Linked DNA regions of Homo sapiens. The protein of the gene in region 1 purifies or fractionates together with the protein of each later gene. This does not show direct contact. Each region holds a gene or a part of one and is shown in the gene's direction. Other genes may lie near its edges.

Region 1 (7,005 bases):
TACTGAGAAGACCCATGGAACTTCACTGAGATCTTTTCTTCCCCAAGAAGAAGGGAGAAGGCCAGCACTGTGTTCCCCTGGAATCTTTCACTACTCTAGCTTCGAAGTATTTAGAATTCCATTCATTCCTTTAGGGTTCTGTGCCCTAAAACCACCCCTTAAAAATGACAAAACAAATATATTGAGCATTTTCTCATATGAGTCAGGCCTTTTATCACATTTAACCCTCACAATTCTGAAGAACACATTTTAATTTCACAAATGAGAAAACTGAGACCCAGAACAATTAAATATTAAATAACCTAATCAAAGTCATACAATTAGTAAGAGAGAGAAAGGGGATTCAAACTCAGATTACCCAAGAAATTATCTCCTGTTTATTCATGGTCAAACCAATTTCTGGTAATCCAAGAAGAATAATGTGAAAACAGACTAACATTTGGTAAGTGCTTAATATTTATAAAGTACTTTACATAAGGAATCTCATTTATCCCTTATGACATTTTCAAATAAACAGACTGCAAATCCAAGGAGGTAGTTTAGGCAAGGTCACACAGCTAGTAAGTAGCTTTGAATTTCCCTACCTCCACCCTTAAAAAAAATTTCTTTTTTTTTAGAGACAGGTCTTGCTCTGTCACTCAGGCTACTAGAATGCAGTGGTGTGATTGATCATAGTTCACTGCAGCCTCAAACTCCTGGGCTCAAGCAACCCTCCCACCCCAACCTCCTGAGTAGCTGGGACTACAGGCATGCGCCACTGCACTGAGTTATTTTTTTTTTTTTTAATTTTTAGTACAGGCAGAGTCTCACTATGTAGCCCAAGCTGGTCTCAAATCCCTGGCCTCCAGCAATCCTCCTGCCTTGGCCTGTCAAACTGCTGAGATTACATGTGTGAGCCACTACACCCAGCCCCACCTCCAGCCTTATTAGCTGCTACCTAACACCAATAAACAGCATTTTACAACTGAAAAAACAGCTCCAGCCCAGGATCACACATCTAATCAGAGGCAAAGTCAGGATTAGGATCCAGGTTTCCTAACTCTACTTGGCTGTGCAGATGCTGTTATAGTCTCTGGGTGCTGCCAGAATTGTGGAACCCTGACTTTTTCCTATTTATAACAATTTGCCAAAACTGAAATTGGATTCCAGTGGTAGATGGATGGTGGTACACTACTTCTGAAGGGGTAAACGGACCTCCACAGGGTTTCAGCTCTGGCTTCAGGTGGACTTATTTGGTATCCCTCTGCAATACTCGGGTGATACTCTGCTGATGCCCACCTGGTGGCATGGTCCTCCCTGATCCACTTTTCCAACAGCCTCTGCTCTCACTGCATCCACTGAATGAGGCACTCTGCTTTAGCACACGTCCCATTTCCCCCTGCCTCCTTACCGTTTTCTCTTCAGTAATAAGACCCCATCTGTTCACCCAGCTCCAATTGCCTTCCCTGATGGTTTAGCCAGGATCAAAGCCCCTCTGCCATGCCTCTTAAAGTCCTGTTGGTTCTTCCCTAAATGCCATCTGTTTTACTCACTCCCCCACCCTAGCCTTCCCTTCCTGGATGTTACTAACTCAAGGATGACAGAGCTGCTTTCTCTCAGGCTCTGTCTCTTTGGTTTGAATTAGGTCCAGAGTAAAAGTCCCCTTGGTTATTTCCTTCTTGGCCATGAGTTAATTATTCCCATATATTAAGGCATTCTCCCCAGAGTGTATCAGCTGACATACACAAAAAAACATCTGGAGAAGGTGATAAAATGAAATGTGTAGATTAACTAGGCCATCTAGCCAACATCAGAATGTTTAGTGGAGAAATATTCAGGAAAGATGCTACCTAGCAAGGTGGGACATCACCAATGAGGCCTAAGATGCTGAGCAGAGGGTTGAAAGAAGAGCAGGAGGCCGGGCACAGTGGCTCACACCTGTAATGCCAGCACTTGGGGAGACCAAGGTGGGCCTAGGTGGCAGAGGCTGCAGTGAGCTGAGATCGCGCCATTGCACTCCAGCCATTGCACTCCAGGCAACAAGAGCGAAACTCCGTCGAAAAAAAAAAAAAAGAGAGAGAAAGAAAGAAAGAAAAAAGAAAGAGCAGGAATCTTAGGACATCTTTACTTCATAACTGACAGGGCAGAAGATCTTTCTCAGAAAAGGAGTGGGAGGTAGGGCATTTAGGCACAGAAACGAGTAGGGCCAACAGCTAGAAATAGCGGAACATGAAGAACTGATGACATTTCAGGGAGAACTGACAGGAATAATAGGCATGGGTCTATCAATCTCTAGCATCATAGGATTAAAAGGGTACTCAAAGCATTCAGGTAAAATCCCAACCCACTGTACAAATGAAATAAACATTTCTTCAAGGGGGCGGCATGCCTCTAACTGAACACCTCCAGCAATGAGAAATGCCCAACTTTAGGAAATCAGAGTTTTGGAGGTGTATGTGAATGAGGTTCCTTTATTTTCTTTTTTTTAATTTTATTCTTTTTCTCTTTTTTTTTTTTTTTTTTTGAGACAGGGTCTCACTCTGTTGTCCAGGCTGGAGTGTAGTGGTGCAATCTCGACTCACTGCAACCTCCACCTCCCGGGGTTCAAGCGATTCTCCCGCCTCAGCCTCCTGAATAGCTGGGATTACAGGCACGTGCCACCACGCCCAGCTAATTTTTGTATTTTTAGTAGAGACTGGGTTTCACCATTTTGGTCAGACTTGTCTCGAACTCCTGACCTAGTGATCCACCTGCCTCGGCCTCCCAAAGTTCTGGGATTACAGGCGTGAGCCACCACGCCCGGCCCAATTCATTTTCAATTCAACAAATATCTATATTTATATCTCAATAGCTAGTGAGTGCCTACTACGTGCCAGATACTAGACACTGGACTGTAAGTATGAATAATATAGACATGGCCCCTCCCCTGTGGATCTTATAATGAGGAAGACGAGCACATAAACATGCAAGTAGAACAGGGGAAGTAGAGGGTGCTGCTCAAACACAGGGTGGGGCACTCAACAGACAGCCCAGCATCTAGATGTCTTCACAAAACAGGCAATGTCTAGGCTGGGGCTTGCCGACGAGTTAGCTGAGGGCAGGGTGGAGAGGCCCAAGGGAGTAGGAGGCTTCCCAGCTTCCAAAGAAGTTAAGAGTGTTGCAAAAAAGTGGAGTCCAGATCTTGAAGGGGAGAGTGGGCTTAGGTCCGGGGGCATGTGAAGCGCCCTCCGTCTGCTGCGCTGGGGGAGATGCTGCGGTATCCTGGAGTGGTGTGAAGGAGGCCAGGACCTGCGATGGGAAGACGGAGACGGGAAGGCCCTGGTGGCCCAAGGGATGACCAAAAGTGAAGCGCTCCTCTATGACAAGATTGAGACAAAAATAAAGGAATAAAGTTCTGAATGCGGTGGGAGAGTCTCCTCCGTCCTCCCTCACCTTTGCTGGGCAGGAACCAAACCTGCTTGCCCTCGGTTTGCCCCATCACCGACGGGTGTGGTCGGGGGCACAGCTCTTCGCCCTTCTTCTCAGATAGGAAAACTGAGGCCCAGGGTCCTGAGGCAGAAATCAAGGTTTTCTCCTCGAAATGGCCTCCCAAGAGGCTGCCCGGGGTCTCACACGATCCTTCGAGGGTCCTGCGGCCTGCCCCACGCCTCCGCCAGCCATCCTCGGCTGGTCGTCTTTGCTATGGAAACGGTCCTCCCGCCCTGCTCCGCGCCTCCGTGTCTTCAGTGCACTCTGGGAAATGCAGTCCCGCTCTGTTTGCCTACCCGCGGCGTGAGCCCACTCCGCGTCCTTAAAGAACTATAAGTCCCAGAAGGCTGTGCGAAACTCCGCCGGTCTCTGGGGGATGTGGTCTTGAAGGAGAGACCCAGGAACCTGCGGGCGGGGCCGGAGGGAGAGGGGAGGACGCCCCCAATGGGCAGACTCCTGGGCGGGGTCCGGGTCACCATTGGCTCCGGCGGCGCGAGGGAGGCGGGGTCAGAGGAATGAAGCGCGGAGCTGTTCGCCGCTCCAGGTGCTGAGTCTGAGGGAGGCTCCGGACCCGAGAGCCGCGAGAGCCGCCGCCGCTGCGGCCGCCGCCAGATCTGCGGCCGGGAGCCCGGGCTGTGAGGAGCCGGGAGGAGCGGGGTGCGCTGCCGGGCGCTGACCGCCCTCCCGCCCGCCGTCAGAGGTCAGTGCTGCTGAATTCGCTTTTGTTTTCTTGGGGAGCGGGCGAACCGAGGCGTGAGGGGCTGGGGAGTTGACGGGACGTGTTCTCGTTGCTCTCAGGACCGCGGGTCCCGGACAGCCGCCGACTGACTAGGGGCCTCCCGTGGCCGGGCGCCGGAGGTCGGAGCAGCTTGGGTTAGTTTTCGTTTTATCATGGAGAAGGCTCTTGGGTATGAGGGGCGAGGGCTGGGGGTCACCCCCACCCCCCATCTCTCCTGGGAGAGCGAGGAGGCTTGGACCCTCCCTCCCGCTGTGCCTGGCGACGGGGCTGCTCGGATTACTCAGGACGGGAGGATGAGGTGTTGTGGGATGAAGGGACTCGAGGCAGGGGGACCCCTCCCCGCAACACTTCGGCTGCTCGAGGTTACAAAGGAGTCTGGTGGTGATGGATGAGATCGCGGACCGCTCCCCTAGCCCAGACCCTCCCAGGGGTATTCAGGAAGGGCTGCTTGGGATGCAGGGAAGACCCTTGCCCAGGCCCCTTCCTCCACACTCGCCCCCCTCCCTATTCCCCCCTCCTCCCTTGGCCCTAGGGTTTTGTAAAGAGGAGGATCGAGGATGTGGAAGAGACAGAGGACTCTTACCCCTCCCACTTGGACCCTCCTAGGTTACTGGTGAAGGGTGGAATTGGAATGTGGCAGGGAAACGCTGGGAGACCCCTCCCCATCCTTCTCGGAGTCGCGGGTGGAGGAAAGCACTGACACTCGGAATCCCCCGCGCTCGGGCCCGCGCCGAGGGTTGGGTGGCCTGGGTGTGAGAGGTAGTGTAGGGGGATGTACGAGGACAGGAGGGACCCCTCCCCACCTCTCCCCACCTGGGCCTTATCTCCCAGGCCCTCCCTACCTGGATCCAGGCCTGGGGCTCTAAGTCGAGACGACCCGCCCTAGCCCACCACGCCCCGGGGACCGAGCCTCTGGCACCGCAGCTGGGGGCCAATCCCAGATGGGCATGTACAGAGCGGGACGGGGCGGGTCTCCCCTCAAGCACTCAAGAGCTCCAGGTAGACGCTACCCCCAACCTCGTGCCCGCGAATCTTTGGGGGCTGCTCCGCTCCGATGCAGGGCGCACCCCAAACCGAGGCTCGGGGACCTGCTTCCAGGACGCGCGGTGGCTGTTCCAAGGCATGGGGCTTTCGCGCTCGGCCCAGGCATCCTCGAGAGGACAAAGCGGCGGTCGCCGCACTGGCAGGCCTGCGCCGCGGGCTGGGCGGGGGGCGCGGCCGCGGAGGGGGGGCTTCGGGCGCGGCGCGGGCAGCTTCCACGGAAACGTGCCAGGAGCGGGGCGGGAGACAAAGCGCACCGGCTTCTAGCGGGCCCGCGCGAGCCGGGATGGAAAATCCCGAGGGAGGAGGCGGCTGAGCCAGGGCAGGGCACTATGCCCCCACATCTTTCCCTTTTCCCATACCCCCTACCCTAAGGCCAGCCAGGCACCCAGGATTCTGTGCACGCGATGGTGACCAGGGCCCCTTCGGGGGCCGAGAGTGGGGGTGTTCAGGACCTGTGACCACTAGGACAGGGACAGGTGGGGGCTCCACCTTGAGCAAGGGGCCTGGAGTTCACAGGGCGTGAGTGGGCCAGGGTCCAGAGGGACATCCTGACTGGACCCTCCCACGCCCCATCAGCCATGTTAGGTCAAATTTGGTTCTGGGGAGGGGATGTGTTTAAGTGTGTGAGGGTTTGCATGGATGATGGTGTGGGTCAGAGTGTGGGTGTGAATGTGTGTGACTAGATGAATGTACCCATGTGTGTTTCAGTCTTCATGTGTGTGGCACGGCCAGAGCTTGCGCTTCGGGCTGTGTGTGTGTGTGTGTGTGTGTGTGTGTGTGTGTGTAGATGAACCACTTACTCATTTACTGATGGGCTTGGATGTTGTGGGGGTGGGGAGCAGGGTAGTCACATCTTTAACTCTCAAGCCACAGCAATGACCTAGGGTCCGAGTGGATGCCCTCAGGGTGAAGGTAGCTTCAGGTTGCTTTGTGCCTAGCCTGCCTGGCCTGCGAAAGGCCCAGTAAGTGGGGAATTCACAACTATGTGGAGCCTTCTTCAGCCCTTCTGAGGTCTCAGGTCTGACCCTGACATACTCACCAGTGCCCTGCCCTTCCCATTTTATCAGAAGCTTTATCCTACTGTAATAGGCTGCTCCAAAGACCAGAATTCTGCCCCCTCACCACCACCATGTGTTTCCAAGTGAGGCTTGGCAGGGGACTCATCAACAGAGTCACTTATGATGTGGGTGCAGGACTACGTTGCAAGGCAACTTTTGTCACTTTGGCCTCCATGTCTGGAAGGGCATGGCGCTGACGTTGCTGGTCAGTCACAGGCAGTGTCTCAGAAATACTAGGTGTCTCAGAAATACTGTTTCCTCAGAGAGGAAACAAGGGTAACACAGACATACACTACAAGGTGATACCCCTAGAGGATAAGCATGCCCCTCCCAGACCTGCCCTCCCCAATAAGTGACCCTGATTTCACAGCACTTGCATAGCAAAGGTACTGTGCAGCTTTGAGATAATCTTCACAGAGATCTACTTCCCATAGGATGAGAGACCAGATGATGGCCAGGAGAACAACAGAAAGAGCAAGTACTACACAATGTAGCCACCATCTATCTAGCCCAGGCTGCCTGATCCAGTTCCCACAAGTATCCACTCCCAGTGTCCACAGCGACCTCTGCTGGAAAGAGGTTAAACCAGTCACAATTTGGCAACTAACACTCCCCCATGGTGTAGAGGCTCAGAGTGAGTGTGAGCATTGTCAGGTAAAATCACAAATCTTTCTATTGGGGGGCTCCCTCCTACCTTCAGAGTGTTGAGTTGATGTT
Region 2 (7,027 bases), on another chromosome or scaffold:
GCTGGTCTTGAACTCTTGACCTTAGGGGATCTGCCTGCCTTGACCTCCCAACACTAGGATTACAGGTGTGAACCACCGCGCCCGGCCAAGTTCCTTTATTTTGAATGGTGCTCTAACAGTTCCAATGCTGTAGAAAGTTTATGTTCTTCTTGCAATTTTAGTCTCTACTCAGTTGATGATGAGAAGAACAGAGTTGTGCAGCACCCCAAAAGACAGCCCCTTGGTGGTTACTCTAGAAAGGAGGAACTGTCCCACATTAGTGCTCATGAAGGTAAACATCTATGGCCCAGTGTTGACAGTGCCGTTAGCCCAGCCCACACTTAGCTTCACAATTCCCCAAAATGACCAAGGATAAAATAGTAGGGTTTTGTTTTGTTTTGTTCCTCAGTTGTGCAATACTTTCTGACACTCTTTCCAAATTTGATTTCCTGCCTCAGTTTAAAGTGGCCAAAAAAAAAAAAAAAGTAACATTGCTGGCAGTCCAAGTCAGCTGATAACCTGGATTTATTATTCCTTCCAACTGAACATGATTGTAGTTCAAAGGAAAACTTTAGATGGGGAACTAAGAGGAGTATTTGGATTAAATCAGAGGTATTTGAGAAATTTGGCGTGGGGAAGGTGATATTAAAAAAATTGTATGAGAAAGTTAGTGAGAATTTCCAAGCAATAAAAAACTAGTGATTCTTTCAAATGTGTACCAGTACTGTAAACTTGGCAATTTATGTATACATTGGAATGCCGTATTATATCCATGAATGTAAAACTATTGGAGACCTGTGGGTGAGGAATTTAAACCATAAACATGGTAGTGAAATTTTTTGACAATGGACCTCATTATTTTACAAACTTAATTACACCATATGTTAAATCACATCCCTGAATAAATACTCATATTAATTACATTGTCCTCAACATTCTGTACTCCATTCACACTAACTTTTTCTTGGTTCCTTATACCTGCCAGCCTCTTAATTGGCTTTATGTTTTCTGTCTGAGCTGTCTGAAATGTTTTTCTCATTCTAGCTTCTTCTCTTTTGGGTCTATTTAAATGTCATATCATTTACATGTCTGCCCTTAACATTTAATCTAATATAGATTGCCCTGTTAATGTCTATCCTAGTGTCTTGATTACTTCCTTCCTAACATTTATTATAATCTTTTGTATTTGTTTACTTAGTTGTTTTCTTTTCCAGTAATGAGCATGAAAGCTCCACAAAGGCAAGAACTCTGTGCCCTCCTCATCACTGTTATCCCCAGCATCTAGTGTAATGTTTGGCAGATAACAGGCATTCAGCAAATATTTTCTAAGTACATTAATGGGTGGATGAATAGTTCTCTTGAAAATAGCATGAAAAAGATTGTAATGTAATTATAATCCCTAAATCCTTAGATTATAAGGTTATCAATGGCAAGATGAAAGTGTGACCATTTCATTCATTTAAATACTAGGCAATTTCAGTTAAGCAAATGCTTGAGAATTCACAGTAATTGATTGGACAATTTGATTTTGTGTTTTAATAAGGCATTAGGTAGTTTCAGGTAAATTAACCAGTGTTTCCTCATAGTAATTAATTTTTTTTTCTGGAAAAGAAAGCTGCAGTCCAGAAAATACAAACCTAACTTTTGGGCATACACTGCTATGAGTGTAGATATTTTCCAATTCCAGTCAGAGTTAGAGAGGAGGAGGATGGGACACCGGTTTTAACAATGTATTGGTTGAACTGTACAGAAAGTACTATTCTTTTTGTTAATGTTTTATGCTGATTGAAATTTTTCAGTTTCAATATTAATTACTTACAGTCTCTCAGACATCTAAAATTCATCTTCCTAAATACAGAAATGAAATTGACCAGTAATAGTCATCCTCTCCAAATCTCTTTTGCACTATGGACAGTTGAAGGAAATATAGAGAAATGTTGACAGCAAATATGGATTTGTAGTGGGTTTGCTTTTTCAAGTTTAGTTTAATATACTTTAAAGCTACTCCTCCCTAGAGATGTTTTAGCCCGACAGGAATGAAAACCTAGACATAATTCTGCACCCCCTGCCCCCTGGAAGTTCTTCTTACCTGACCATTGTAAAAGTTAGCACCAAAGGTCTGAAAAAATAATGAAAATATTTTTCTATGAAAATAATCCCTACTCATGCTAATCATTAAGAGCAGTTTTCTGTTAACATTTTCAAGAGCATTTGGTTTTATTAAGTAGTTTTTGGAATTTTAGTGCTTTTGTATGTAAAACTCATTTGTGGTTTAGGAATTTAAAATCCTGATTATTGTCAACAAAATGTCAAGAAATGGAATTTTGGTGCATAGGCAAGCTTGGCCAGTGCTTGTGAGACTTTTTAAGTCTTTGTAAATCAAAGAAAGTAAACTCATTCCAAGATTTCACTCTTATTTTTAAGGTAATTGTTTTAAAATTATTGTTTGAGGTTTTAAGGCTTTATTTTGCTGTGCTATAAACTTAGATTAAATTTGTTTTGTCTTGTTTCTATTTTGAGATGGTAAAATTCGTATTCTATCAAAAACTTCAAAATTTGTTTGTAAATCAGGTTTTTCTCCAAATTTCCTCTAGGGTTTCATCAGAATGTTTAGCGTGGGGTACTTGATCCAGTGCTGCCTCCGAATCCCTTCTGCATTTAGGCATCTGTTTACACAGCCATCTCGGCTACTTTCTCTCTTCTACAATAAAGAAAACTTCCAGCTTGGAGCTTTTCTTGGCTCTTTTGTTAGTATATACAAGGTAAGGCTTTTAGAAGAGGAAAGAAAAATGGGAAATAAATAACATTGCTATTGTTAGAATGAGAGATGGCCTTAGTTCACTTATTTTTTAATGCTTCTTTCTGGAATATTCATACATATCTTGACATAACCAAATCTATACAATATATTGGGAAGTGAGGGTACAGAAATTTCTTCTTTTAAAATATTATTTAATATACTCGAGTGTGTAGACATGTTTGCATTTACATATGGTATTACACATTGTCAGACTCATTTTCTTTTTCAATATATAGACACTCAGAAAATATGAATTTTTTGGATATTTCCAATATCAAAAATGATATTAATATGCCTGGCTTATTTATTTTTTTATCATATTTACTGCCTGGTTATTAATTTAAATGTATTTCAGATCTTTCTAGCTGAAATAAACACTTGATAGAATCGGTGAGGATTTTCTATTGTAACTTATATAAGCAATGACTTAGGTCCCTTCTTCCACCCACTCACAGTTCCTACTACACTGTCTCAAATAACCAGAGTTCACAGTCTTCCACCCCATTCTGTATGTTCCTATAAAAGTGTCCATACATATATAAGCCCACGCCTAAACATATATGTAGAGATCATTCTTAACCTAGTACTCTGCAACTTTAAGTGATGGCCTTTTGCATAATGGAATCACTAATATGTAAATCATATTTTATTAAACGCTTAAAAGATTCTAAATCTGAATATAATCTCTAAATGGTAAAGTGTGTTAATTAATGTTGACCTAACACATGGACATAAAGATGACAACAGAAGTCACTGGGGGCTTCTAGAGGAGGGAGGGAGGGAGCAGGGCAAGGATTGAAAAACTAGTGCCTGGGTATTGGGATCAATCATACCCCAAACCTCTGCACCACACAATATACCCCTGTAACAAACCTGCATATGTATCCCCCGAATCTAAAAAAAAAGTTGCAATTAAAAAAAAAAAAAAAGGAGATTAGAACATATACACACACAGAGGAATGACCATGTGAGGACACAGGGAGAAGGTGGCCATCTGCTAGCCATGGAGAGAGAAGGAGCGAACCTTGAGCATACCGTGATCTTTGAACTCCCAGCCTCTATGACTGTGAAAAAAATAGATTTTTTTTTAATCTACAATCACAAATTGCTCACTTTTGCCTTAATTTTACTCTATAAAAGATATGTGTTTTGAGCACAGGGATTGTGTCTCATTTTGTAGGAACATGCAGCAGGCATTCCAATATGTCTGACTAATGAATTAAGGACATTAAAGGAGTGTGCATTTTTGTAGATGAGATTTGCCTACCTTCCCTCTGTCTACAAAAAAATTATAAATATATATTTTATTCATACTTTATTTCTTTGACTGTTTTAATGTATATTTTAATAAATATATTGAAAGAAGAATATATATTCTGTGGGTATATATATATGTCTATATATATATATATACGTACACATATACACACTTTTTGTTGTTAAATGCAGAGAAAATTAATGATGGGAAAACTCAATTCTGGAATTATTTAGGGTAACATGGACAGTGTTGTTTTCTGTAAAAATTTACTCATAAAAGGTAGGTATGGATAAAATATTTTGAAATGGAAAGGAGGAATAATAAACTATAGATAATGAATCACTTGTTATGAAATATTACTAATATTAAAAACATTTTCAATATGGTTTGACTAAGAAGCATTACTAATGTATTTGAATATACAAGAGTTAAGGACAGATTATTGGTAATTGCATGTTTATATTCACATTTAAAAAAATTTCTCACGTTATAGCATTTGTATTTATTCTTAACATAAACTCTTAACTGTTTACATGTGGTTTATCACCAACATTTTTAGCCCCAGGTTGGTTATTCTCTGCCATCTAGCTTATCTCAGAGTGTGTTTTGTTTTGCTTTTTTATTTTTCATTTCTGTTACTATTTATTTACTTAGGTAATACAAACAAATGGTATTAAAGTAACAAAAATACAACCGGGTCAGAAAATCTCAGGAAATATTCACGTGGTGTGTTCAAAAATTGTATGTGATTTTTCAAAAACAAATTGCCCATGCTATAGTATCTTTATAAGAATCTTAAGAGAAGAGCAGGCAAATAAACCTTGTTTTTTCTGTTTCTTGGTTAACTGACCCTTTTTTAAAAATTTGTTAAGGTTCCTCTTTATCTCTGGTAATATTCATTGTTTTATAGTCTATGTTTAATATTAATATAGCTACTTCAACTTTTCAAAATTATTGTTTGATGTTATAATGTTTCCATTCTTTCACTTTTTCTGTCTTTGTTTGAAAAACTGGTTTCTTTTAGGCTGCAGAGAGTTGGCCCTTTCTTTCTTATAGAATCTGATCATCTCTGTCTTCTAATTGGCATGTTTATACTGTTTACATATAATGTATTATGTGTAAATATATATAGTTTATGATGTGATTGAGTTTAAACCTACTTTCATGTTAGTTTTTTTGTATTTGTTCCTTTTTTTCTTCCTCTTTTTTTTTTTTTCTTTTTCAGCCTTCTGGATTGATTGTGTATTTTACTATGGCTCCATTCTAGCTTCACTATTGCCTTATTATTTGTACTTGCTTTAATTTAGTGGCTGCCTTAACATTTTATAATATACATTTTTAATGTATCAGCCAATCTTCAAGTAATGTTATACTACTTCACATACAGTGTCAGACCTTACAACACTGTACTTTGAATTTCTCCTTCCCATCCTTTGTTATAGGATTTAACATTTATCGTTTATCTTTATATATGTTATATACTCCACGATATGTTGTTACTATTTTTGTTTTAGATCAGAGGTCAACACACTTTTTCTGTGAAGAGCCAGATCATGACTATTAGGCTTTGTGACCATATGGTCTCTGTCATAACTACCCAGCTCTGCTGTTACAGTCTGAAAGCAGCTATAGACAATATATAAATGAACAAGTGTGGCTGCGTTTCAATAAAACTTTATCACACTATAATTAGAACTTGATGTAATTTTCACATCATAAGATGTTGTCATTCTTTTGATTTATTTTTCATTTTTTAAGACTGTAAAAATGATTATTAGCTCCTGAGCCATATAAAAACAAGTAGCAGGCCAGATTTGGCTAGTGAGCCATAGTTTGCTGACCCCTATTTTAGATAGTTAATTCACTTTTAGTGCAAGTAAAGATAAGAAAAATATGTCTTCTAAGTTTACCTTCACTTTTCTATTTCCAGAACTCTGCATTTCTTTTCATAGTTCTAAATTTTTGTCTGGTGTCATATTCCTTCTACCTTTAACATTTCTGTGAACTCAGATCTGCTGGTGGTGGATTTTCTCAGCTTTTATCTGTCTGGAAAAAATCTTTGTTTCACCTTCAGTTTTAAGAAATATTTTCTCTGGGTATAGAATTGTGGCCTGACAGACTTGTAGTTTAGCCAGCTTTTTGTTCTTGTTAAAATGGGAGTGATGCTTTTCCCAGCATTCGATAGCTAGGCAAAAGTGAAATTTATGGATTTATTTTGCAAAATCAGTGCAATAAAAATATTATGTGTAATTTCTTAATAGAGTCTATAGAGTAATAACTTTATAAAATATTATTGTTCATAATTTTTCCAATCATGTATGCAGTTTGATTTAGATGAGATCACTAATTGGCCTGCAAGGTAATCTGATGAATTTATTCATTATAGTTGTTTTTGTTTTATGCTTTTATTTCTAGAAATAAAATAACTGAAGTCATTGTATTTTCTCCTTAACTAGGGTACTAGTTGCTTCCTGCGCTGGATCAGAAACTTAGATGATGAACTACATGCTATTATAGCTGGTAAAGCAATAATAAAAATGAATGGTTATTATTGTATTAATCAGTGGTAGGAATGAATTGGAAATACCATCCAATTCATCCAATTTCTATGAATCTTCCTTTCTCTATCGTAATAGAATTCCAGTTGAGGCACTTGTCCAAATACTTTGTGATGTTTAACATATCAAGGCACTGTTGCCATCTGATGTTTTGAGTTGGCAATATAATGGCTTGGGTATCTGTCCTGCTATAGGCCATAAATCCTAGCGAATGTGTCACAAAAGAATATAAAAAGCCTTATATTTATATTTGCCATATAAGTGATTAAGGGAAGTTCAAGTAGATTTCATTGAAAATTCTATTTTTACCACTGGAAAGTGACCTATATTTTCATAATAACTTTTTAAAGGAACTTAATCATTTTATTAAAAAATCTAAATATTATTTTCTATAAGTGCAATGTATGTATTAAATTAAATAGATAATTTATC
Region 3 (7,218 bases), on another chromosome or scaffold:
ATAGTATGGAAACAACTTATGTAACTAATTTATCATATAATTTTTTTATTAGGAAACTCCTAATTTAAAAACTGTCCTAATTTGTATTTCATCTAAAAAGTAAGTGATAGAAGGCTTAATTTTGAACAAATTCAATATTCTTAATTCTCTTGTGGGAACTGGAAAAGTTATACAAAGTCCATAATTTTAAAAGTAATTATATGTACAATTAAAGAAAAAAACCCATCTAGTACTTGGAATACATTTTTTCCCAAATGCATTAATTCAAAAAGATACATATATTTAAGAGTATTATTTTCTACTATTGAACTTTTAGTAGCAAATACACAGAATTTCAGCTACATTGTAATTTAAGTAGGCTTTTTGCAGGAAGGCCATTGTTTATAGAACTCTTTGTGAAATGGTTTCTATGGAGAAATGAGTTTCCAAGATGGAATTTAGATCCTTGGCAAAAACCTCTGCTGCTTAGCAGGAAGGGAATGACCCACTTCTCTTGGCATCTCAGGTGCCTGGGAGCCCTTTCTCAACCACACCCTGGAGTAGGGGGCTAGCTTGCATCCCTGCGTTCTCCTCATTACAAAAAAGAATTCTGAGAAGGAAGGTGATCTATTCCCTATGCAACCTCAGTGTCCACTGAGAAGGGAATCTTGTGGTATGGAACTATGTGGCAAAAAGGTACAAAGTATTCTTACACCTGGAATTCTTAACCTGGGGCATGCATTTTATCTAAGAGGAGAGGCTGAAGTTTCCTCCAACTTTCCATTCTAAAAAGGAACAGACATTGCTTTCAAGTGGTTTTAACTGACTTTCATTTTTGATTGGCATTTTCTTCCTATGTACAAGAAGAGTAGAAAAATCAAACATAGTTTCTAGTTGATGTTAGTAAATATAATCATTACTAAAAGTGGCCATTTGGGGAGTAATACTGTAAATACCTTAAACAACTACAGAAATGGTAATTTGTTTCTCCTGAAACCCTTAAATATTATATATAAAGTAATGGCAGTGATCAGTCCTTTAAGAGTAAGGCAACTTTCTGGATGTCACTGTTATCTTAAAGGTCTACGGAGGAAATAATATCTTGTGACATTTCTAACTTCCTAATGGTAATTGTGGAGACACAGAAGTCTGAGGCTGCCTATGGTCAAACATGACTGTAAACATTACCCACTTTTTTTTTTTTTTTTTGAGACAGAGTCTTGCTCTGCTGCCCAGGCTGGAGTGCAATAGTGGTTCGATCTTGGCTCACTGCAACCTCCATCCCCCAGGTTCAAGCAATTCTCCTGCCTCAGCCTCCCAAGTAGCTGGGATTACAGCTACGTACTAAAACACCCAGCTAATTTTTGTATTTTTCGTAAAGACAGGGTCTCACCAGTTTGGCCAGGCTGATCTTGAACTCCTGACCTCAGGTGATCCACTCACCTTGGCCTCCCAAAGTGCTGGGATTACAGGCGTGAGCCACTTTGCCCGGTCTACTCTCTCTTTCTTAAAACCTTCTTTTCCTTTAATTTTCTACCTAGCAGCTTTATTATCATTTCTGGGTCTTTTCCTTCTCCTATCACTAATTAAATAAGGAAAAATTTGAAGATTTCATTTTAATCCTTTTTAAAATTGATTCCCATATCTCTATTCCTTTCTAACCTGCACTTTCAGCTTCTATTTGGGTGCTTCCACTGGGATAGCTCATCAGCAACTAAAACTTTGCATCTTTAAATCTAAACTCATCTCTTCTCACTCAATAGCCAAACTTTGGACCTCTCCATTTCTCTTAATGTTAACACTATTTCCTGTCATCAAAACGAAAACTGGTCACCTTTTATTTCTCCCTCTCTGTTCCACACATCCACTATGTTGCATAGTCAGTCCATTTTTGCTTCATGTTGTTCATACTCGCCTTTCCTTTCCTCTGCCATTGGTATCCCTTATCACCTCATGCCTACCTGTTACTAATTCTTGTAACTGGCATCCCTGTCTTAAGTGTTTCTCCCTTCAATTTATCTGACATAATTCTTTCTGATAATCATCTAAGAGCTTGTTAAATTTTCTAGGAAAAATAAGCCACAAAGATATGTCCATTACCTCTTCATTTATCTAGTTATTTAAAAACATGTATGCCTTTAGCAGGGCTATTTGGTACATACATTTTTAAAAACACATATGCTTCTGCAGGACTGTTTGGTACCTGTTCCCACTCACACTAAGCTTTACATCAAAATTTAATGGAAAGAGACAAAAAGGAGAATGACTACTTACCATACTTTTCCCCTCAGCCTTTTGATGAAAAACCTATTAAAGGTGCATTTTGGATTTACTTATCTTACTGAATTCAGACTAGTATAAATTGCCTCCAACACAACAAAATTATGGGTTATTTTAAATCCACTGTATTCCAAATAGCTCGAATTCCTTCTTAGTGCATACCCCTTAGTTAAAATAATTTGATTTTCACTGAAAATGTCCAAGGGACACAAACAAATGCAGTTAGCATGATTACCTCTGGTAAGTGGAGAGAGGAAGAATTTTGCATACAGTACTTTTTCTTAAAAAGCACGTCTTTTTATGATAAAAAACTAATTTTAAATAGTATACCTAGAAAACGTTACACATATACCCTAGGGACTTTTTCTTGTTCTGTAATATGTTAGTATCAAATAGCAACATATTTAAATCAAGAAACTTGTGGAAGAAAGTGTCCCTTCTTGGCCTTTCCTTGATACATTCACTGTGTGACACAGCTTGTTATGTCTAAGTTCTTTTCCTTATTCATCCTGACACAGAAGCAAAGTAGCTCCTGAAGGGGGAAGGGGAGGGATGGAGGGGCGGGGAGGGGGGGATTGACAGAGAGAGAAAGACAGAGAGAAAGAGAGACAGGAACCATTTAGTCCTAGGGCAAATCGCTGAGCGTTTATTAGAAAAAAATGCATGCTCATCATATGGAAAAATAATTAGCACATAAAAAGAATAAAGTTCTCATGTAAGGATCATTAAGACTTTTTTAAAAAAAAACAACACAATGGCTTTTTATAAAATGACTCAAAGGCTTTATCAATAAGGAGTTTCCGATCACTCAGAAAACATCCTCTCTCTCTCTCTCACACACACACACACACACACACACACTCTCAAACACACACGAGTGCGGGCGATTATCAAGGCTTGTAAAGGAATAACTGGTTAAAATAGTTGCAAAATGTTTTCTTCGTTATCCTCATCACACCTCTCCTGACAGCTTTATTTCTTCTCTCGAACATAAATTTCCTCCTTATGCTTTTCTGGATGTAATTTCCTATTGTAATCTGAATTTTCTGGGAAGATAATTGCCACAGGAGTGGATATAGCTCTACTAAAAGGATAAGCGGGCAATCTACATTCGAGTTTTTTTCTTTTTTTAAACAAAAACTGATGGACTCCGCCAAAGGGGAGTCTGGACGGTTTATGGGAATGCAGAGCTGGGTGGAAAGTCTTTCTGCGAGTGGGAAGTATCCCTTCTCCTCGTTTGCCCAGGTTCTCCCCACGCCTCGGGCTGCGGCCAGCTTTGGCTCGCTTCTCTGTCTTTGCAACCTGGTTCCTGACTCTGCCAATTCATATTACAGATGGGCCTGCGGGTGCTGCACCGGGGTGACAGCAGTCCTGATGGGCCGTGCAATTCTGTAGTGGATCCAAGTCGGTACACGGATGCACAGATACCTTTGACTGCCTCTCGCAGGACTTGGATTTTTCCTGTTTTTTGGTGCGGCATCCGGGTGGTTCTGACACCCTAAGACTGCTCCTCTGCTCCTCCTCTCCCGCAAGGCTTCCACTCCAGGGCCCCTGTCCCCCTTTCGCTAGCACTCGCGCACCCCTCGCGCTTCCTCCCGCCGGGGAACCCTCGCATTTCCTCCTTCCCCTCCCAGCCTTGCCTTCTTCCCCGCCCGCCTCCAGCCACATGACCGGAAGGGCTCCGCCACGCGACGTCACCGACGTCCGCGCCCCCGCCCCTGGCCTCCCCCCACCCTGCACGCAAGGGGCGGCCGGCTGAGGGGCGAACGTGGTCCGCGCGCTCAGCGTTCCCCAACCAGAGCTCGCCAGAGCGCCGCGGCACTCGCCGCCCAGCGGGGCGCGCAGGTTCCCGGATGTGCGGCGCTCGCGGAAGCCCCGCCCCCGCCCCGCGCGCTGCAGCACTCCGCTTTCCCCTCCCTCTCCGCCCTCCCCTTTTTTCGTGCCTTGAGGTTGCGGGTCAGCGCGAGCCGCTGCAGTGAGTCCGTCACGGCTCCGGCGCGAGCGCGAGGCTGCAGCCCCCGAGTTTCCCGGCCGTCTTCGCCCCCTCTCCCCCTCCTTTCTTCTTCTCTGCCTCTCCTGCCTCTCGCCGCTGCTCCTCCCGCGCTCTCCGGCTCTGAATCTCGACCTTAATTTATTTCCCCCTACCCTGCCCGCTCCCTCGCGTGCCCAATCGCCCGGCCGGCGCGGGCCCCGCGGCGCCGCCTCCCCTCCCCCACGCGCGCCCCCTCCCCGCCGGCGACCCGAGGGCCGCAGCTGGGCCGCCGCCGCCGTTTCCTGCGAGCCAGCCTGAGCGCAACACTTCTCCGAGCCAGCGAGCCAGCGAGCCGCCGACCCGCCGAGCAAAATGGTGAGACCTTGGCTTCCTCGATGCACCATCCCTCCCCCTACTGCCGCCGTCCGGGTCGGGTGCGGGGGCGAGCCCCGACGCCCCCGGTCGGCTGTCCCCCGTGGAAAATTCCAGAGACCCGGGCCCGGCGGGTCCCGCGGCGGTTGCGGGCGAGCCGGAGAGGGCGGCGGGGCGGCTGCTGACAGGACGGCGGCGGGGCCCCCGCGCCCGCCCCCGGCCTCTGCGGGGCGCCCCTCTGCTGCTCGGCCGCCGCCCCGCCGTCGCCCCACCCCCGCGCCGCCGGTCCCGCCCGGCATCGACCCCCGCGGGCACCGCTGACCATCAGCCCGGCGCACTCTCCTTCTCGCGACCCTCCTCCACGTGGAGCACCCCCCTCCCCTCCACACTCACTCTGTTTTTCGAGTTCGAGGGTATTCTGAAATCCTTTGGAAATAACAATATGTGGCAAATGGCACTTTACATAAGACCCACTTACTCTCCAGAGCTGCTGCTGCTTCCACTCACTGCCTGTTTCCCAGCAGTGAGTCTTGGCAGGGAACCCTGCCACTCACTTCCCCTCTCCTGCGAGCGTCGGTTTAGCTGCGGTGCGCAGCCCTGCGGGGTTTCCGTTCGCTGCTGCTTTGCTCGCTGCCCTGGCGAACCGGAAAGATCCAAGGTGTTTGTTCACGAAAACATACGCGAACTTGGTTTGGGAGAAATGGGGGCGCTTAATTTTTCATGCTTCCGTTACTACCAAGGGTTTTTTCATTTTCTTTGGTACCTTCTTGTGTCTCTCTCTTGGAGTGGTTGTTTTTGAATCATGGCGATTTTAATTTGTCTTTCCTTACCCTCACATTAATCCCTAGGTAGAATTCGCTGCTGTAGTGTTTCAGACCGACGCTAGGGGTGTGTCTCCCGCCTCTGTCGCTGCAGCCAAGAAATCAACGACGCCCTTTTAGCCTGTTACCTTACCGGTTCTCTCGCTCGGGGAAGCCCTAGTCGTTAGTTTCCTCTTTGTAATCAAGAGTTGTATACACAGTAGAGAAAGTTCAGAGTGCTATTCCGCGTATATCAGATACTCCATCATGCGATTCAGTTATTAGGCTTTCTCTAAAAGTCTTTGAACAGTTGTCAGAAGACTTAAACTGGTTGACGGTGGGTAATTTCTCGCATCTTTTCCACTGTATGGTATCCCACCCTGTATGTAGAATTTAAGTGCTTCAGTGTACGTGGTGGATTACTGAAGGGAGGAATGCTGTTGCTTACAACTTAAAATCGATTTGGTGAAATCGATTTTAAGGGAAGAACGTGAAATTAGAATATTCAGGTAAGTCAGCTTTTATTTAAAATATAGGGCAAATGAGTAAGTGCTTACTGGTGCACTTAAAACCCAGATTAAGAGCAGACTTAAATGATTGCCGATTTTGATGTGTAGAGAAAGTTTTTCCTTGCCAACTTGCGAGGCAGCTCAGAGAGGCAACTTTGGCACCTGAAAGTCACAAAACAATTTAGGAAGATCATAGCCATTCATCATATAATCTTTTTGTTGGCATAGTCTTTTGAAGTGAAGAATTGCATTTCAGTGCTTTAATAGAATTTCCTTATGCACATGCTTTACTTGAAGGTCAGGATCTTGAAGATCTTTGTTCATTGCAGGGAATGTTTTTACTTAGCTTTATAAACAGCACATTTGAGGAACAATGATCTAGCCTTTTGTTGTTTATATATTATACAGCGAAGTGGTATGGTTTCCAAATAGTAACTCTCTTGCGGTGCACCCCGTCCTCTGTTTTTTGAACAACAGACTGAAACTGGGAAGTTCTCTTTTAGCTCTTCAATTTCTTATTTTCCTGTTAACTCTGTTTTCTTGTCTTTTAAAATATTTTACGGTGTATCAGACGATGTTGTTTCCTGCCAGGTCATTATGTTCCTTTTCTTCCCAGCTCCCTTTTCAGTATTTATTTCCTAATTCAACTGTTGGGTTTTTTTTTTTCCTCTTTCATCCTCCCAATACCATTTCAGGACCTACATAATGTTGGCAGTGGCTTTCCAACTTTAGGGTTATTTTGGTCTGCTGAATACAGTACTGGTTTGAAAGTATCAAGACCATACCCATAACTCAACTTTGCCATATGGGATGTCGATTAACCCAAATAAATCAGGCTTTGGAGTGATCTGGTTAATTTTTCTGGTTAATTGAACATACAATTCTGAAAACTTTCACACCCTTTGGAAAATCTCTCTTAGAACTCTTATTATTTACATTCTGTCAACAGCATTTACAGTATGAAATATCACTAGTTAATTCAAGTATGGAAAGTAAAAAGGCTTATAAGATTTAAATGTACTCTCAAGGATCTTTTCTGACAGGTATTAATTTTAGTTGGTGCCTTAAACGTAGTTTATTTTTTTTTTTCCTGAAAGTTAAAGTCTTTCCCTCCCTTCACCCTTATTTGAGTTTTAAATTGTTAAGCGTCCAGGGAGAATGAAGGTTATATGTTAAAAAAAAAAATCTTGTAAATAGTGAGCTCCTAGGAATTTCCCCTGAACGAGGTGTTTTATATATGTTTTTGTTGAAATAGATAATACGGATTTTGTTCTGGATACTTAAATGAACATAATATAAAGGTAAT
Region 4 (7,027 bases), on another chromosome or scaffold:
AAGATGCTCAGGGCTCAATGTGTACCCTTGGCGGCTTCCAAGCATTTTATAATGCTGAGTCTCCTTGTACCCACATCACCTTTTTATGAGGTCAGTGTTACCAAGAGGACCCGCACACAGGGGAGGAAGAGGCAGGAGACCAAAGGAACTCAGTGCTTGCCTCCAGTGATGAGTCAGGCAGGGCAGCAGTGACACTGAATTCCCAAAGCCCAGTTCGGCAGCTTTTGAGTCCACACTGCAGTTTCCCTTTGAAAAGAATCTCCTAAGTCAAAGATCACAGAAACTTAGTCACTCTTGTGCTGAAAATCTGTAAAGTGTTGCCTGCCCAGCCCCTACAGGACAAAGTTCACACTGCAGAATGCAGTTTACAGGCTCTCCATAGCCTAGCTCCTGTCTCCAGCTCCAATCTAGTTTCTCACCATGCTCCACCCTCATATTTTATGTTCTAGCATTATCCAGCTGCCTGGAGTTCCTCTCATAAACCAGACTGTTTGTGATGTCTGTTTCTTAGCTCATGCTGATTCCCTTTGCCCAAATTCCCTTTCTACACAGACCCCATCTTATCCTTCACTTCCTGCCCTTACTCCATCCTTTAAGACTCTGCTGAGGTGTCACCTCCTCCAGAAAGAATTCCCCACCTGAACTGTATCCACCTCCCAAGTTAGGTTCACCCCTTCAGTGCTCTTATAGTTTTTCTATTTTCATACTTACCATGTTGTTTTGTAATTATCTGCTTATGTATCTGTCTCCCCAACTTGAGCCCTTGAGGAATGATGATTGCATCTTACTCATTCTTTTCCTAGTGCCCAGCTTATAGAAAGCACGCGATAAGTGTTGAATAAAATAATTTGATGTTGGGAGGATCAATCAGGCAGGAGCAGGTGAGATGTTCTGCTTCAGTTTTCTCAGTGGGGCGCTTCCTGTTTCAGAAGCTTGCACCAGGGCTGGCCAGCAGCAACTGTTACAAACATGCTCCCTATGCAGAGCTGGAACCCTGCTCTGCAGCCACTCCATCAGTCTTAGCTTTGGCCTTTGAAACTATCCCAAATGATTTTGATCTCTGCTCTGCCTACAGGAGATGGTTTGGAGGAGTTCTAGTCAAGACTCCAGAAACCTGAGAACTGGATTCTGGTTTAGTGCAGGAAGCCTCAAACCTTTTAGTTTGTTGACTCCTTTCCACTTAATGGAAGAATTTTTAGATAAGATGCCAATGATACCTTTCTAAAGTGCATTGCTGATTTATGCCAGAAGCCAACATATAAAGCTCTATCATTTTATAAACATGGAAGGAACTGAATATATAAATTATATAATTAATATATTATACATATTAATTATATAATATATAATTTATATATTCAGTAACAATAGTGTATATTTGTTCAATCTTAAAAAATACTGTGAGGTAGATATTATCTTCATTGTAGAAAGGAGGAAACTGGCTAAGGGAGGTTAACTGAGGTGTTTTAGGGTCACACAGCTTATTTTTGAACTCATTACTGATTACTCTTCTGATACACTGTGGAGATTCTTTGATCTCACAATGGATCCACTGCGCTAATGGTCTTAGGACTCTAATTTTCATCTTTTATGTGAGAATTCTAATTTCTACTCCACTTCTATTTTCTGACAGTCATAGGACAAGTGGGAGCACTTACTTGGCTGCATAAAGGTTGCTCAAGTGTCACTTTACTCTGGAATGAAGGGGATATTCTGGTTAACTGCAAAAACATTTTCCTGGAGGGCACAGTGAGGTCTTACTTCAGATCTTAGTAAATGCAAATGGTTGTTTCAAGTTAGAACCTTGATTAAGTCCTTGATTTTTAATTTCCATCCATGGCTTATACAACCTGAAACAGAAATACTGTTCAATTTGTTCCAACCTCAGCCTTCTTTTCATTGTGTCAGAGAACAGATATATAGAGCATCATACACTTAAATCTCTGTGTAAGGAATGCAGTGAACAGGACAATCCTGATTCTTACTCCTTAATTAAGAGACTTAATTCAGATCCCTGCTCTTCCATTTACAAGCTATGTGACTTCCAGCCCCATTTTTTGGATCTGTTCATTAAAGGTTGTAAAAGTGTTTATAGAGAGGTTGTGACAAATAAACAAGATAACACATGAGAGCATGTGGCATGGTACCTGGAATATGGTAAACTCTTAGTAAATATTAATATGTATATAAGGTGTTACTTCAGTAGGTGCTAGGCGTGTGCACGCACACACACACACACACACACACACACAAATGGAATGTTGGATTAGATAGGTGACATCTACAATTCTGCAAATCTCTCCTAAAAAGTAAAATATCTATCCATGTATCTTCTCAAATGCTTGGTGTATGTCCCACATTCATACAGTAGCTGCTTCATAAATGCATGATGAGAGATGAAATGTGTGGAAGATTGAATGAATGGATGGAGGGTGGATTTGAGTGATTAAAAGCAAAAACAAACCAAACAGGTACCAAAGACATCTCCACCCTCTCTGTCCTGGAAAACCAAGAAGTGTGTTGTCAGAAAACAGTGAGCAATGGCATTCCAGTCTATTGTGCTGAGACTGGATAAGACTGGGAAGTGCCTGACCCAGGGGATGGTTCCAACCTTTGTTGAATTTTTCCCTTCTGGCTTTTTCTTCATCTTTGGATTTAGTGTTTCCTTTTGTTTTGCAGGCCATTCTCAGGATCAAGTTAAGGTATTTACCTGCGTTGGCAGAATATTTCAGGGACATCTGTCCTGAAGCAGTCCAGTGGTGACAATTCCCTATACTATTCTTTCAGTTTAGACTTATATCTGGACAATCTAGGCAAGGAACTATCATTTATTGATCCCTTACCATGTCAAAGGTCTTCACATTCTAACTCATCTCATCTCTATAACAACTCTAGGTATTATGACTTGTGTTTTATAGTTTAGGAAACTGAGGTTCGGAGTAGTTAAGTAACTTATCCAAGGTCAAACAGCTTCTAGATGGCAAAACCTGGACAGGAGTTTATGACTGCCCAAATCCAAAGCTCTTAACTCTCTTTATTCTCTATCACACTATTTTCTAACTAAAATGTTAGTTTTTTCTCTCCAGAATCCAAACTGGCTGACTAGACTTGTTATTTTATTTTTAATCCAGTTCTTTGGATGGTTTATGGTTTCACTACTAACATACCATTCTGTATGTAAATGCCAGCTTCAGATTTCTTTTAGCTCCGTTACTGGTGATTCATGGTGATTGAATGGAGCTTTCCTTAGGGAATTGAGATTTTATTCTTTGGGCATAAAATTTCTCTTCCTTTTAAACTCTCATCTCTGAAAGTGAAAATTTTAGAAAGTAAATCCTCTTATTTGCCAGTAGCATTTGTTTTCAGTTATCTGGTCTATCTTCTAGAATTACTGTTAGTCAAGAAAGCTTTTTTTTTTTTTTTTTTTTTTTTTCAAATTTCCTCCTTCAAGATGCATGTTATATCTTCTGAATGGTGACTTACCCTTTCATTTTCATGAAACTTAACATCTGTCATAGTAATAATTCATTGCCTGTCGATATATCTATTTGGCCACTGAAAGGAAGGAGAAATGAAAAAGAAACTGACTCATAGGCTGAACCAAGAATAGAAGCACCGTTTAATATTCCAGTCATGCTTCATTGACCTAGTGCTGAACAGAAGTGTGGCTCAATCAAAAGGTCAAACAGAGGGTAGTTTATATTTTTAATCAAAGCTGAAAATACGGGTACATTTTACTTTGTAGAATAAACAGATGGCTGAAATATTATTTGAAAATATAAATGTAATTACATGTTTCAGTTGACTTATACTTTAAGGGCTGATTGGTCTTCAGTTTTTATTGACTTCCAGTTGGCAGGGACACCTAATGCTTTAAGAAAGCCCTGAGCCCTCTGTCAATTCATTTTAGTCAACAAATCTTTATTGAGCATCTGCTATGTGTGAGGCACTATTCTAAGTCCTGGAAAGAGAGCAGTGGTTACAGACAAAAATACCTACTCTCATAGGGTTTATATCTAATAGAGAATATAGATTATAAAATAAATAAATAAAAGACAAGGTGCCAAGCATGGTGGCTCATGCCTGTAATCCCACTACTTTGGGAGGCCAAGGCGGTCTGATCATTTGAGCCTAAGAGTTCGAGACCAGCCTGGGCAACATGGCAAAAACCCATCTCTACAAAAATTAGCGAGGAGTGCTGGCATGCACCTGTAGTCCCAACTACTCATGGAGGCTAAGGTGGGAGGATCATTTGGGCCTGGGAGGTAGAGGCTGTGGTGAGCTGAGATCATGCCACTGCACTCCAGTCTGGGGGACAGAGTAAGACCCTGTTTCAAAAAAAAAAAAAAGGCATATTAGACAGTGATAAGTGTTAAGGAGAAAAAGCAAGGAAGGAGGCTATGAGATATCAAGGAAAAGGTGAAGTTTAAAACAAGGTTTCCATCCAGGGAAGAGATCACTGAGGAGTTGACTTTTGGGTATAGACATGAAAGAAGTAAGAAAGCCAATTATGCAGGCATCTATAGAGGGGGAAAACGTTCTGGGTAAAGGGAATGGTAATTGCAAAGGCCTGGAGGCATGAGTGTGTTGAGGAAGAACTAAGAGGCTGGTTTGGCTAGAGAAGAGTAAATGAGAGTAGCAGGAGATGAGGTCAGAGAAGTGGGGAAGGAGACGGCAGATCATTTAGATTCTTCTGAGCTATTTGTAAAATATTGGGGTTTTACTGTGTGTGAAGTGGGAAGCAATTGTGCAGGGTTCTGAGCAGAGAGCTTCGATGTGATCTGGCTTACATTTAAATAGGACCATTTTGGCTGCTGCATTGAGAATAGACATGTGGTGTTAAGGGCAGAAGCAAAGAAACCAGTTAGGAGGTTTCAGTGATCTGACAAGACAGTAGTATCTTGGATCAAGATGATAGCACTGTATATTCTGGATATATTGTGAAGAAAGAGCTCATAGTCTTTGGAGTGAGAGAAAGGGAAGAGATGACTCCAAGGGTTTGGGCCTGAATAATCAGAAGAATGGAGTTGTCATGAATAAGACAAGGATACAAAAGGAGGGGCTGTTTGGGGGCCATATCAAGAACTCGCTTTTGTTCATAAGAGCAAGAATATAATACTGGTTGAGTATCCCTAATCTGAAATGCTTGGGACCAGAAGTGTTTCAGTTTGAAGATTTTTTTTTGGATTTTGGAATTAGTGGCTGAACCTCCCAAATCTGGAAATCTGAAATCTGAAATGCTTTAATGAGCATTTCCTTTGAATGTCATGTCAGTACTCAAAAAGCTTTGGATTTTGGAACATATTGGATTTTGGATTTTCAGATCTGAGATGCTCAACCTATAGTGGCTACCAGGGGCTGAGGGGTGGGGAAGATGAGGAGCTCTTGTTTAATGGGTATAAAGTTTCAGTTACATGGGATAAATCAGTTCTAGAGATCTGCTGTACAATGTAATGCCTATAGTTGATGATATTGTATTGTGCACTTCAAAATTTGTTAAGAGAGTAGATTTCATATTAAGTTTTCTTAATACGCACACAAAACAAACAAAAGGACACAAGGAAAGTATGGGAGGTGTTGGACATGTCTCCCTCCTTGGTTGTTGTGATTGTATCATGGGTATTTGCATACATCCAAACCCAGCACATTAATTATGTGATGGGTTATTACATATTTATTGCACATTTAATTCATCACATTAAATATGTACAATTCTTTGTATATCAGTTATACTTTGATACAGCTGTAGGAGGAAAAGGTACTCCGTTTTGGGCACTCTGAGTGCGAGATACCTTCAGGTATTCAATTGACCTTCAAGTAAGTACAGTCTAGAGCTCATTGGATGCTTATCATATGGCAGGAGGCACTTTTCTAGTGTTTTTTTTTTCACATGTAATTTCATGTAATCCTCAGCATCGTCAGAAATAGGTACTATTATTATCCTTCTTAGAGGAGGAAACAGGCCCAGAGAGGTTAAACTACTATTGCATTTTTACACAGCTAAGAAGAGGTGGGGCTCGGGTTTGAACCTGAGCTGTCTGACACCAGAGCACACATGGACTGCTTCTGTTGCAAACCTGTTGATGTGTTGGGTGAGCTCCTATTGAATGCTCTTGAATGAAGTTTATCTTTTAAAAGTTCACATGTTCATTTACCAGGATTTTATAGAGGGTGTGTTTCTAGCTCTGGCAGTCACACGCCCATGAATATCAGAGGCTCACCACCTCCAGGTGTACCTTTGTGGCTATAGGAAGGGTGGGGTTATTGCAAGTACTCCATTGGGCCGAGGGTGCTCTGCCCCCTTGTACAGTCTTGTTCTATACTGATCCATCTTGAGCTCTTCCTATTATCCTTATGCAAGCAGACATTTTCCATAAGGCACCAGGTTAGAGCTGGGAAAAATGGATCACCCAAAAACTGTGTTAACTCTGTTGAGCAACAGATTTTGTCCCCTGCATCTCAGTGAGTAGCGGAGATAAGAGGGTAGGGGATAGAGTCTTGCATCTCTGGGCGTATGGAGACATTGCTGCCAGACAGGCTGTTGGATTGGATGTGGTGCATGAGCCTGAGGAGAGCCCATCTCCTGTCTCAATGCCAGCTGTCCCTAGGGGTGGGAAGGAGGTGCCCAGGCCGACTACACCCTCCAGAGCTCCGCTCCTTGAGCAGAGGTGGCAGACCCACACATCCATCATCCAGCCCTAGTCTGTTCAGGAGCTCCTTCTCTGCAGCCAGCTTGGCTCCCAGGAAGGAAGACCAGCAGAACACTTAAACTTAATAACCCAGTAATGCAGTAAGTCCTACTTTGGGACAAGAGGAGGGACTTTGCTCTAACTCAGAACGTATACCTCCTTGAACGTGCCAAAATTCCTTTTTCCTTTATGACTGTTTAGTAAGTTAAAGTCCTTCATCTTTGCAGGTTCTTGCATTTGTCCCTATACCGACTTTATCACAGCTTGGTAAATGTGCCTTCCCTCTATGTTTGTGAGATGGCAGCACTGGTTTCAGGAAATCTGCTTGCTGTTATCTT

The links.
Region 2: the proteins of SMPD3 (region 1) and TMEM135 purify together in Homo sapiens (affinity purification with mass spectrometry; 2 studies listed by BioGRID and IntAct, with this or other methods). This does not show direct contact.
Region 3: the proteins of SMPD3 (region 1) and PPP3R1 purify together in Homo sapiens (affinity purification with mass spectrometry; 2 studies listed by BioGRID and IntAct, with this or other methods). This does not show direct contact.
Region 4: the proteins of SMPD3 (region 1) and ENDOD1 purify together in Homo sapiens (affinity purification with mass spectrometry; 2 studies listed by BioGRID and IntAct, with this or other methods). This does not show direct contact.

The regions. Positions count from the first base shown.
Region 1 is NC_000016.10:68,445,495-68,452,499, reverse strand, and holds the start of SMPD3 (sphingomyelin phosphodiesterase 3), read left to right. Parts: upstream 1-3,991; 5' UTR 3,992-4,147; intron 4,148-7,005. UniProt on the Homo sapiens protein: Catalyzes the hydrolysis of sphingomyelin to form ceramide and phosphocholine. Ceramide mediates numerous cellular functions, such as apoptosis and growth arrest, and is capable of regulating these 2 cellular events independently.
Region 2 is NC_000011.10:87,306,932-87,313,958, forward strand, and holds part of TMEM135 (transmembrane protein 135), read left to right. Parts: intron 1-2,573; coding exon 2,574-2,741; intron 2,742-6,493; coding exon 6,494-6,557; intron 6,558-7,027.
Region 3 is NC_000002.12:68,249,513-68,256,730, reverse strand, and holds the start of PPP3R1 (calcineurin subunit B type 1), read left to right. Parts: upstream 1-4,198; 5' UTR 4,199-4,603; coding exon 4,604-4,606; intron 4,607-4,996; exon of another isoform or gene 4,997-5,128; intron 5,129-7,218. UniProt on the Homo sapiens protein: Regulatory subunit of calcineurin, a calcium-dependent, calmodulin stimulated protein phosphatase. Confers calcium sensitivity.
Region 4 is NC_000011.10:95,092,820-95,099,846, forward strand, and holds part of ENDOD1 (endonuclease domain-containing 1 protein precursor), read left to right. Parts: intron 1-7,027. UniProt on the Homo sapiens protein: May act as a DNase and a RNase. Plays a role in the modulation of innate immune signaling through the cGAS-STING pathway by interacting with RNF26.